Regions from separate parts of the Homo sapiens genome. Here region 1 is linked to region 2. A link means that fine-mapping ties the variant in region 2 to the expression of a gene that starts in the linked region. Tissue or cell type: whole blood. Region 2 holds a variant in brackets; the other region holds the start of a gene. Each region is shown on its reference strand, or each on the opposite one.

Evidence for each region. PIP is the estimated chance that this variant, and not a neighbour inherited with it, causes the effect. A credible set is the group of variants that fine-mapping cannot tell apart.
Region 1: CORO1B starts here. The variant in region 2 is the best candidate, but not a certain one, in a credible set for the expression of CORO1B in whole blood (TOPMed, PIP 0.56).

The regions. Positions count from the first base shown.
Region 1 is chr11:67,441,619-67,446,144 of GRCh38, forward strand. CORO1B (coronin 1B) reads right to left here and starts at 1,858. Exons shown (of 11, transcript NM_020441.3): 1 at 1,786-1,858; 2 at 810-1,012; 3 at 348-470; 4 at 115-244. The coding sequence starts at 1,010. RefSeq lists enhancers at 74-913, 1,754-2,593, 2,254-2,353 and silencers at 1,774-1,823, 1,864-2,123.
Region 2 is chr7:50,330,724-50,334,723 of GRCh38, forward strand. The region is part of intron 3 of IKZF1 (IKAROS family zinc finger 1); the gene reads left to right. Among named protein-coding and RNA genes, the nearest start is that of IKZF1, 28 kb to the left of the region's middle. The variant T/C (reference allele first, on the strand shown) is at 1,758.

The sequences.
Region 1 (4,526 bases), not on the chromosome of region 2:
TCCAACTCTGAGGGCCTCAGCTTTCCCATTTGTCATGTGGGCCCTGGAGGGGCTGCTGGGATGTATGGAGGGGTCCGTGGGGGGGGGGAGCACAAAACGGGGGGCGGTGCAGACCTGCACTGAGCAGCACGTTTCGGGCCGTGGGGTGCCAGGCGATGATGCCCACTCGCTTGGTGTGCCCCTCCAGTACCACCACCGGCTCTGTCAGCGGGGAGGTCAGCCCGTTCTCTGGGATCTGCCACACCTGTGGTAGGGACAGGGCCACCGAGCTCAGTCCTCTGCTGGTCCTATTGCTGGCCCCCTTCGGCCACACCCACGACCCTGGCCCAGCCAGTCCTGTGCCTCACCATGACCGTGCAGTCCTCCGAGCCGCTGGCTATGACTTCGTCGTTGTGAGGACACCAGTCGATGTCCAGGACAGGTCCCGTGTGCCCACACACCGTCGGGTAGGCCTTGTCAATGCGGCCCGTCTGTGGGCACGAGGGGGCAGTCAGTGGGCTCCATCCCTCCCGAAGCCTTGGTCTTCCCCTCCATGGAGTGGGAATGACATGCACGTCCCGGCTCACAGGTGGCCCAGATGTGACTGTGCCCCACTTGCCAGGTGAGCAGGAAATGTTTGCTGCCTCTAACCCTGCCTCTATGGCAACAGGCTACTTTCCATCTGTGCTAACACTTGGGGCGATAAATCTGGGTTATAACACCTGCCCAGCAGTGTGAGAAACGGCAAGATGAGGGATTCAAGGTGTGCAGAAAGGCCCAGTAGGGGTGGCCGAGGTGCCTCCTCTTCCCCCAACCCTGACAGGACCCACCTTGCTTAGGGGGAGCACCAGAAAGGCACCCCCTCCACTGGCCTCCACAATCACCGCCAGGAACTTGGGGTTGACGGCGCAGAAGGTGCTGTCCCAGGTAACACGGGACACGCGAATGTCCTCATAGCACTGGTCGTTCTTGACCGGCTGCCCGAACACATGCCGGAATTTGCTCTGCCGGACCACTTTGCGGAAGGACATGTCTGCGGGACAGAGAGGCCTGGGTCAGTCCGGCCCATCCCAACAACTCCAGCCCTCCCCAGGCTGCTGAAGGTGAGCCGGGAGGATGCAACCGGGGGCCAGGCCACCGTAACCCTCCTGGGTCTCGGTTTACCCAGTTACAGAATGGGGTCACAGGTGCAGAGCCTGGCCGCCTGTCACCCCGCAGGCAGTGATCTGAGAGGTAAATGCTCCGGCCCTGACCACTGCTGAGTCCTGAGGGGCTTTGCAGGACGCAGGGCCCCTCCCTGGCTCTGGTGTGTGTCGGGGGCAGGAGGTGGGAGGTGCCGGGGTTGGAGAGCTCTCAGCTCTACTGTAGGTCCCAGCCAGTCGGGAGCAGCCTCCTTCCTGCTCCCAGAGATTTGGAGGCTAGGTAATGGGGAAGAAGGAGAGAGGAAGCAGGAAAAGTCTCTCTACTGTGGGGCCGAGTGAGTGCCCAGTTCTGAGTCCCAGGGAATGTCCAGGGAGCCCCGGCATGGCCCCCAGGAAGGGACGGGGTCGGGACGCAGCTGTGGGCCGCGAAGCAACCCAGAGCGGCCTCGAATCGGGGTCCAGGGTGAACCAGGAGCCCAACTTCCAGGGACCTCCGCCCAGGAGAGGAGAGGCTGGGCGGCCAAGGGGAGTGGGACTGAGTGGGGTAGAGGGGAGGCGAAAGGCTCCTGGGACCCGCGATCCCCCCTCAGCCCCCTCAGCCCGGCCCCTGCAGCCCCGCCCAGCCCCCAGCCCGCGCCCCTAGCCCCGGCCCTGCCGCGCTCACCGGGGGCACCGGGGGCGCAGGGGGCTGCGGCACCGGCTTCGGGCGGCTCCGGATCCCGGCCTCTGGGAAGCAGGAAGCAGGATTCAGGAAGTGACAGAGGGACCCGGAGCGGGGGCGGGGCAGGGGCTCGCGGGGGCGGGGCCGAGGTCACGCGCGGAGGGGCTGGGCGGGAGGCTGAGCGGCGCCGGGGGGCCGGGAGCGGGGCCGCCGGGGACGGGGCCAGAGAGAGCCCCTTTCCTAGGACCCGGTGGAGCGCCCCCACCGCAGCTCCTCCGGAAGAAGGGGGCGGGGCGGGGCAGGGCCGACGGCGGCCGCCGCAGAGGCGCCGCAGGTGCGGGTGCAGCCTTACAGCGGACCCGAGGCCCCTTCGCGTTCTTGCTCCTCATAATGGCATCCGCAGGAGTCTCCAGGATTGGGTGAGGCCCCGCCTTCCCGGCCCCCGACGGAACGCACACCTCCAAGGGGCCCCATTACCGCCCCCAACAAATAAATGTAGAATCTACACGGACAGTGGATATGTTCACGTGACTCTTTTTAAGTTATCAAAGTTAATGCTCTTTTTTTTTTTTTTTTTTTTTTTTTGAGACGGAGTTTTTGTCACCCAGGCTGGAGTGCAGTGGCGCGATCTCGGCCCACTGCAACCTCCGCCCTCCCAGGTTCAAGAAATTCACCCCAGTAGCTGGGACTACAGGCTTATACTACCACGCCCGGCTAATTTTTTGTATGTTTAGTAGAGACGGGGTTTCACCATGTTAGCCAGGATGGTCTCGATTTCCCGACCTCGTGATCCGCCCGCCTCGGCCTCCCAAAGTGCTGGGATTACAGGCGTGAGACACCATGCCCGGCCTAAATTTCATGCTCTTGGTTAACAATGTAAAGAAAACAACAGCAGGTGTTGGGGTGGTTTTTTTTTTTTTTTTTGAGGCAAGGTCTGTCACTACCGGGCTAGAATGTAGTGCCATGATCATGGCTCACTACAGGCTCGACCTCCTAGGCTCAAGGGATCCTCCTGCCTCAGCCTCCCAAGTAGCTGGGACTACAGACACACACCACCACGCCTGGCTAATTTTTCTTTTACTTTTTGTAGAGATGGGGTCTCTTGCTCTGTCGCCCAGGCTGGTGTGTTTTTTGTTTTGTTTTGAGATGGAGTCTCGCTCTGTCTCCCAGCCTATAGTGCAATGGCGCGATCTCGGCTCACTGCAACTTCTGCCTCCCGTGTTCAAGCAATTCTCCTGCCTCAGCCTCCCAATTCGCTGGGATTACAGGTGCCTGCTACCATACCCTGCTATTTTTTTTGTATTTTTAGTAGAGATAGGGTTTCACCATGTTGGCCAGGCTGCTCTTGAACTCCCGGGCTCAAGCAATCCTCCTGCCTTAGCCTCCCAGAGTGCTGGGATTACAGTTGTGAGCCACCGTGCCCATCCAGAAAATAGCAGTGTTTATGGAGCGAGTGGAAGACCCAGGAGTCCCATTTTTCAGGGTAAACACCTGTGCATTCTGCTGAGCTTTCTTATTACAATTTGAAAGGGGGCCATGGCCAGTGAGTCCCTTGCACCTTGCCTTCTTTTCTCCACCATCTCCCTCGAAGGCCTGGAGATCCATTCACAGGCCTCTCTCTTTCTCTAGCCAGCGCCTGTGACAAGGAGCCCAGACTGGCCTCTCCAGACCCACCCCATCCCGTTCCACAGGTGGAATGTACCCCCGTTCCCTTAGGCCAGCGGCTCTGGGGCACCGGCTACTTCCCTTATTCTTTCCTTGAGCATCCACTGCCCTGGCTGACCGATGGCACCCTCCCTTTCCCAGAAAGAGATGGATGGAGGACGAAGCGGGGGAAGAGCAGAGGTCACAGGAGCCTTGTCTCTGGCTAAAAGAGGCCCCCACTGTGTGTCTGAGGGTGACCTCGGGCTTGTCTCCCATCTCATTCCCATTGCCACACCCCATTGAGGAAACAGGCACAGAGAGGTGCGGTGCCTGCCTGAGGTCATCCAGCCGGATGCAATCCCCATCGGCTTGGGTCCAAAGCCCTTGCTTTTCCTAGTGCTCTATAAACCCTGGGGCTAGAAGGATCATCTAGATCCCACCCACCTTCCTTCCCACCCCGAGGCCTGGGCACATCCTGTTCTCTCCATCTGGAAGCTCTTTCCTCAGATCCCAAAAAGGCTCCTTTCCCCACTCGATTCAGGTCTCTGGTCAGACATCACCTCCTCCTAGGGCTCTCCTGGACCATTCCTCACCCAGCCACTCTTTGGTCTTACTTGTCCTGACTGCATTGTTCTTTTTTTGGGAGACAGGGTCTTGCTCAGTTGCCCAGGCTGGAGTGCAGTGGCACGGTCCTAGCTCACTACCGCCTCACACTCTGGGGCTCAGTCCTCCCGCCTCAGCCTCCCAAGTAGCTGGGACTACAGGCACGTACCACCATGCCTAGCTAATTTTTATTTTTGTAGAGATGGAGGTCTCCTATGTTGTCCAGGCTGGTTCCAAACTCCTGGCCTCAAAAAATCCTCCTGCCTCAGCCTCCCAAAACTCTGGGATTACAGGTGTGAGCCACCACCCGGCCTGTGTTCTCCAGCGCCGCCTGATGTTGCATCAGGTGCTTATTGGTGTATTTGGTTTGTGTCGGCCTCCACCAGGATGTCAGCAAATTGAGGGGAAGGACTTTGCCTATCTTCCTACTGTATTCCCAGCACCCTGAACAAGATCCAACACTCAGTATGGGATCAAGTAATGTATGAGGAATGAAT
Region 2 (4,000 bases):
GGATAAAGGGAATAACCTGGGTACCATATTTCATCACATTATTCCATGGGAATAAGTCATCAGTGCAAAGGACTGTAAGGAGTGCACAGCAGGAAATGAAAAGACAGAAGCAGTGGGGCCGAGAGGAGGAAATGGAGTTGCTGAAATGCAGGGTGAGCAGCAGGGGCGGAGAGTGCCCTGTGGGTAAGGCACACCTCAGAAGGGACAGGTCCAGGCCCTCTCCTCCCTGGCCTGGAGCTTCTGGCAAGGCTTTTCTTCTCTGAGCCTCACTTTCCTCTTTTGAAGGTGGCAATAGTAACTGAACCTGCATCACAGAATGGCCTTGAGGGTTAGATGGAACATATATAGACATAATTTGTTGAAGACAGAGTAGCAAAGACACAAAGTAAAAAGGACAGAAAAAAGAAATGCAACTTGTGCAAAATAGAACTTTCAAAGATTTACAAGAAGGGTAAATGAAGCTATCGTAGCTTCACTTGGGAAAAGGGAGAGAACAGATGACCAGCACCAAGGATAGAAGAGGGATTTCTTACTTTAAAAAAAATGGTCCAAAGAATAAACAAACTGAAAACAGCCAAAAGAGAAAGGAAGAATTTGTTAGAATAGGGCAAGACTAAAGGACAGAGTAAGGGTGCTGGCCGCCACCTGACTCAAGTTCAAGTCGAGCTGCCACTGTTGAAATTTCAAGGAGAAATGGTGAGAAGCTAAAAGATGCAAAAAAAAAAAAAAAGTGGGAAATTATTTGCTAATAATAGATTGCAAGAGTGTCTGCTTTAGAAAGTGACAAGGAACACTTTTGGAAAGCTGTGAGCTGTTATGACCACTGGCATCCTTCAGTTTTAGACAAATCTAATCTCAACAAGGATAACAGACCATATTAATAAACAAATTGATGGGAATGGTGGAAATCAGTTCCCTATGAGGAGGGTGCAAAGTTATACTGATTGGTGAGTCACTCCCAGAATAAACAAATAATGGTTTCACACCTCATTGCTTCATTCAGTGTGGAAGGAACATTCTAGGTTTGTGTGTAAGTTTGGGGAGAAGGAGACAGAGCCAGAGGGCAGAGCAGCCCTGCAGCCCTCAGTTGGCCTCCATTTTCTTCCCGGTCTGAAGAAAATGAAACAAAGGATTTAAAGTGTTGCTTGAAGAATTTAAGTTAGACTTAAAGGAGAGATGTGGTCTTTACTCTCCTTTTGGCAAGGAGAGTTTAGTCATCAGAATGGTCTATTTAGTGAGACTGTAGCTTGTTCTTCTGAAGTGGTCTTTTTAAAAACTAGAGAACTCTCACCTCTCTGAAGTGGTTGTGTATGAAACTGTTTAAAGCCGAGGATGCACTCAGTGACCTCTTCAGGCAACCCCAGATTTACTCAGTCAGCCATGGCACACATGCTAGAGAAGTAAAAAAATGAATTGAGACTTGTTCTGAAAACTCTTGAGCAGGGGCTCTTAAAAGTTTTTTGTTTAGGAATTATGTCAGGGTTGGGGTCTGGAGAGCAGATAAGTGTTTTGTGTGAGAAAAGTAAAAACTTAGTTATTTTCTTCCCGTATTCAGTAATCCTTGCATTTTTTTCCTCCTCCTTTATACATACATTTTTGCCAGTTACTGACTTCTCTCTTGTACACATTTCCGTGTCCTAAATTAACCAAGAGTCCTCAGCCACTAGGATTCTATTGACAAGCCCACAGGTCTGGAGGTGTGAGTAAGGGCATTCCTCCCCCATGAAATCAGGCAGCAGGGGAGGCGTTTGGGTGGG[T/C]GGAACAGAGGAGCAAAAGACCAGAGGACAGAGAAGAAAGATTGCAGGCTAGAAAACGGGATGGCCACCCCTGAGAAAGAGGACAAGCAAATTTAGGGCTTAGAGTAGAATTGAAGAAAAAACCCAGGGCAGAGGCACAGGAATGCTGTAGGACTGAACTGGGACCATGATTGATGTAAGTGGAGATGGGTTGGTTGAATCCGTGGAAGGCCAAAGGATTGAGGCCCATATGGGCCTGGGACAGGGCTTACTAAATGACTTGCTACCTGGCTTGATAATCGGGACAACCTCAGGCAGTAGTTATTCAGGCGGGAGGACACATGAGTTTGAATATAGGGAGATAAGGTATATTTCTATATGCCCTGGTACATTCCAGAATGTGCTTCTCTGGCTCTGTGCACTGGAGCAGCCAACTCCTGAAGTTGGGAGGGGATCGCCATGGTTTCATGAGTGGTTTATTTCAGCTTGCATCTCACAGTGTGGTGTTCAGAGGCATAGGCTCTAGGCTCCCTGGCAGCACTGAGAGATAGAAACTGAATCAGCACAACTTAGGTCCTTCATGTTGAATAGTTTGAACAGAATTTGATTTACCCTAGCCTAATTGAAAAAAAAAAAAGTAGAAAAGAAATCTAGGTATTTTCCCTCTGGACTCCAGAACAAATGATTGAGTGTGTAAAAGCATAAATCTTTTTTATTCATTCAATTGAAGTAAAAATTTCTTTACTCAGCCATGAGTTCTAAGACTGCAGTGGGAATTGTAAGAGGATTACCATATTTTAAATTGGCTATTCTGGTGCCAAATCTCCCCTTCATTTTACAGTTTCAGGCAGAAGACCAGCACGGTAGTCGGGGGAGGGGGGTGGGTAGACAAATGGTGGTAACAGTCCTCTACACTCTGGGAGGGAAGGAGCGGTGCTGGGGACAGCTTTCACCATGGAAAGAAAGCAGCCGCTCTGGAGATTGGGCAGCAGGCTTTTGAGCACGGATGCGGAGCCTGCTTATCTAATCAGCAGCTAGAGGAAGTTGTTTTTATCTGCGAAATGCATCTCTTCTGAACCGATAAACCCCATTTTAGCTGGGGAGAAATATTATCTAGCAGCATCTGAGCATTAGCTGCAGCTGAACTCAAGCATGTTCAAATGTGAGAGAAGTCTCAAGCCGAGAACTGTTTGCCGAACTTCAAGTGGCTGGAGTACTGGTTTTCAAGTTTTCTTTTCTTTCTTCTTTGAGGAATAACTGAAAGCATATTATTTGGATTCTTGTTCACCTTGCTTTTTTAGTTCCTTTCCCCCTTCATAGTTGAATTATTGTTCAGTGGTCCATGGAGCAAATTTTGAAAATTCTATGTTATTCATCTTGCAATTTACTACCACTATCTTGGAATGCCTCGTGAAGACAGCAGGTATTGTCAGCATGAACATATCCAAACCCAGATGATCCCGGTTGGAAAGCCTCCCCTTTTTCAAATTTCCCAAACATGAAATATAGTATTACAAAATGATCTGCCCACCTCTAAGCTTTTCCATGTTTGATAAGAGAGGCCATCATGTAACAGGTTCATTGCTTCGCATTTCAAAGTAAATTTTAATTTACAGTCTTCCAGATTCGTTTTGGGTAGGATTTTTATGTCTGCTAATTTGTCAAATAGTTCAAAATGTTTAGGGATCATGATGTCTTCCACAGAACTTCATGACAGTTTTGATTTTAGATTAAAGTAAGTGACTTTTGTGCTATATCAGATAACATCTTGTACTAGGTTTTGGAATAGACCGGTGAGATCAGGCAGCAGAAGTTTAATAACTTTCCTTGGAAAACTGAAATTGATGTGTGTGTGTTTGTGTATATGTGCATGTGGTACATGTGTTGTGTGTGTGCAGGTGTCTGTATATATGTGGGGGGTATATGTGGTGTGTGATGTATGTATATGTATGTGTGTGGCATGTGTGTGTTTGTATCTATGTACATGTGGTATGTTTATGCATGTAGTTGTATGTTGTGTGTGTCATATGTTTGTGTGTGCATGTATGTGTGTGGTGTGTGTGTGTATGTGTAGTGTATATGTGTATGCTGTGTATATGTATATGGGGTGTGTATGTGTGTGGTGTGTGTATATGAATGGGATGTGTAGTGTATGTGTGTGCTGTGTATATGTGTATGGGATGTGTGGTGTGCATATGTAGTGTGTATATGTGTGTGAGATGTGTAGTGTGTGTGTGGTCTGTATATGTGTATGGGATGTGTGG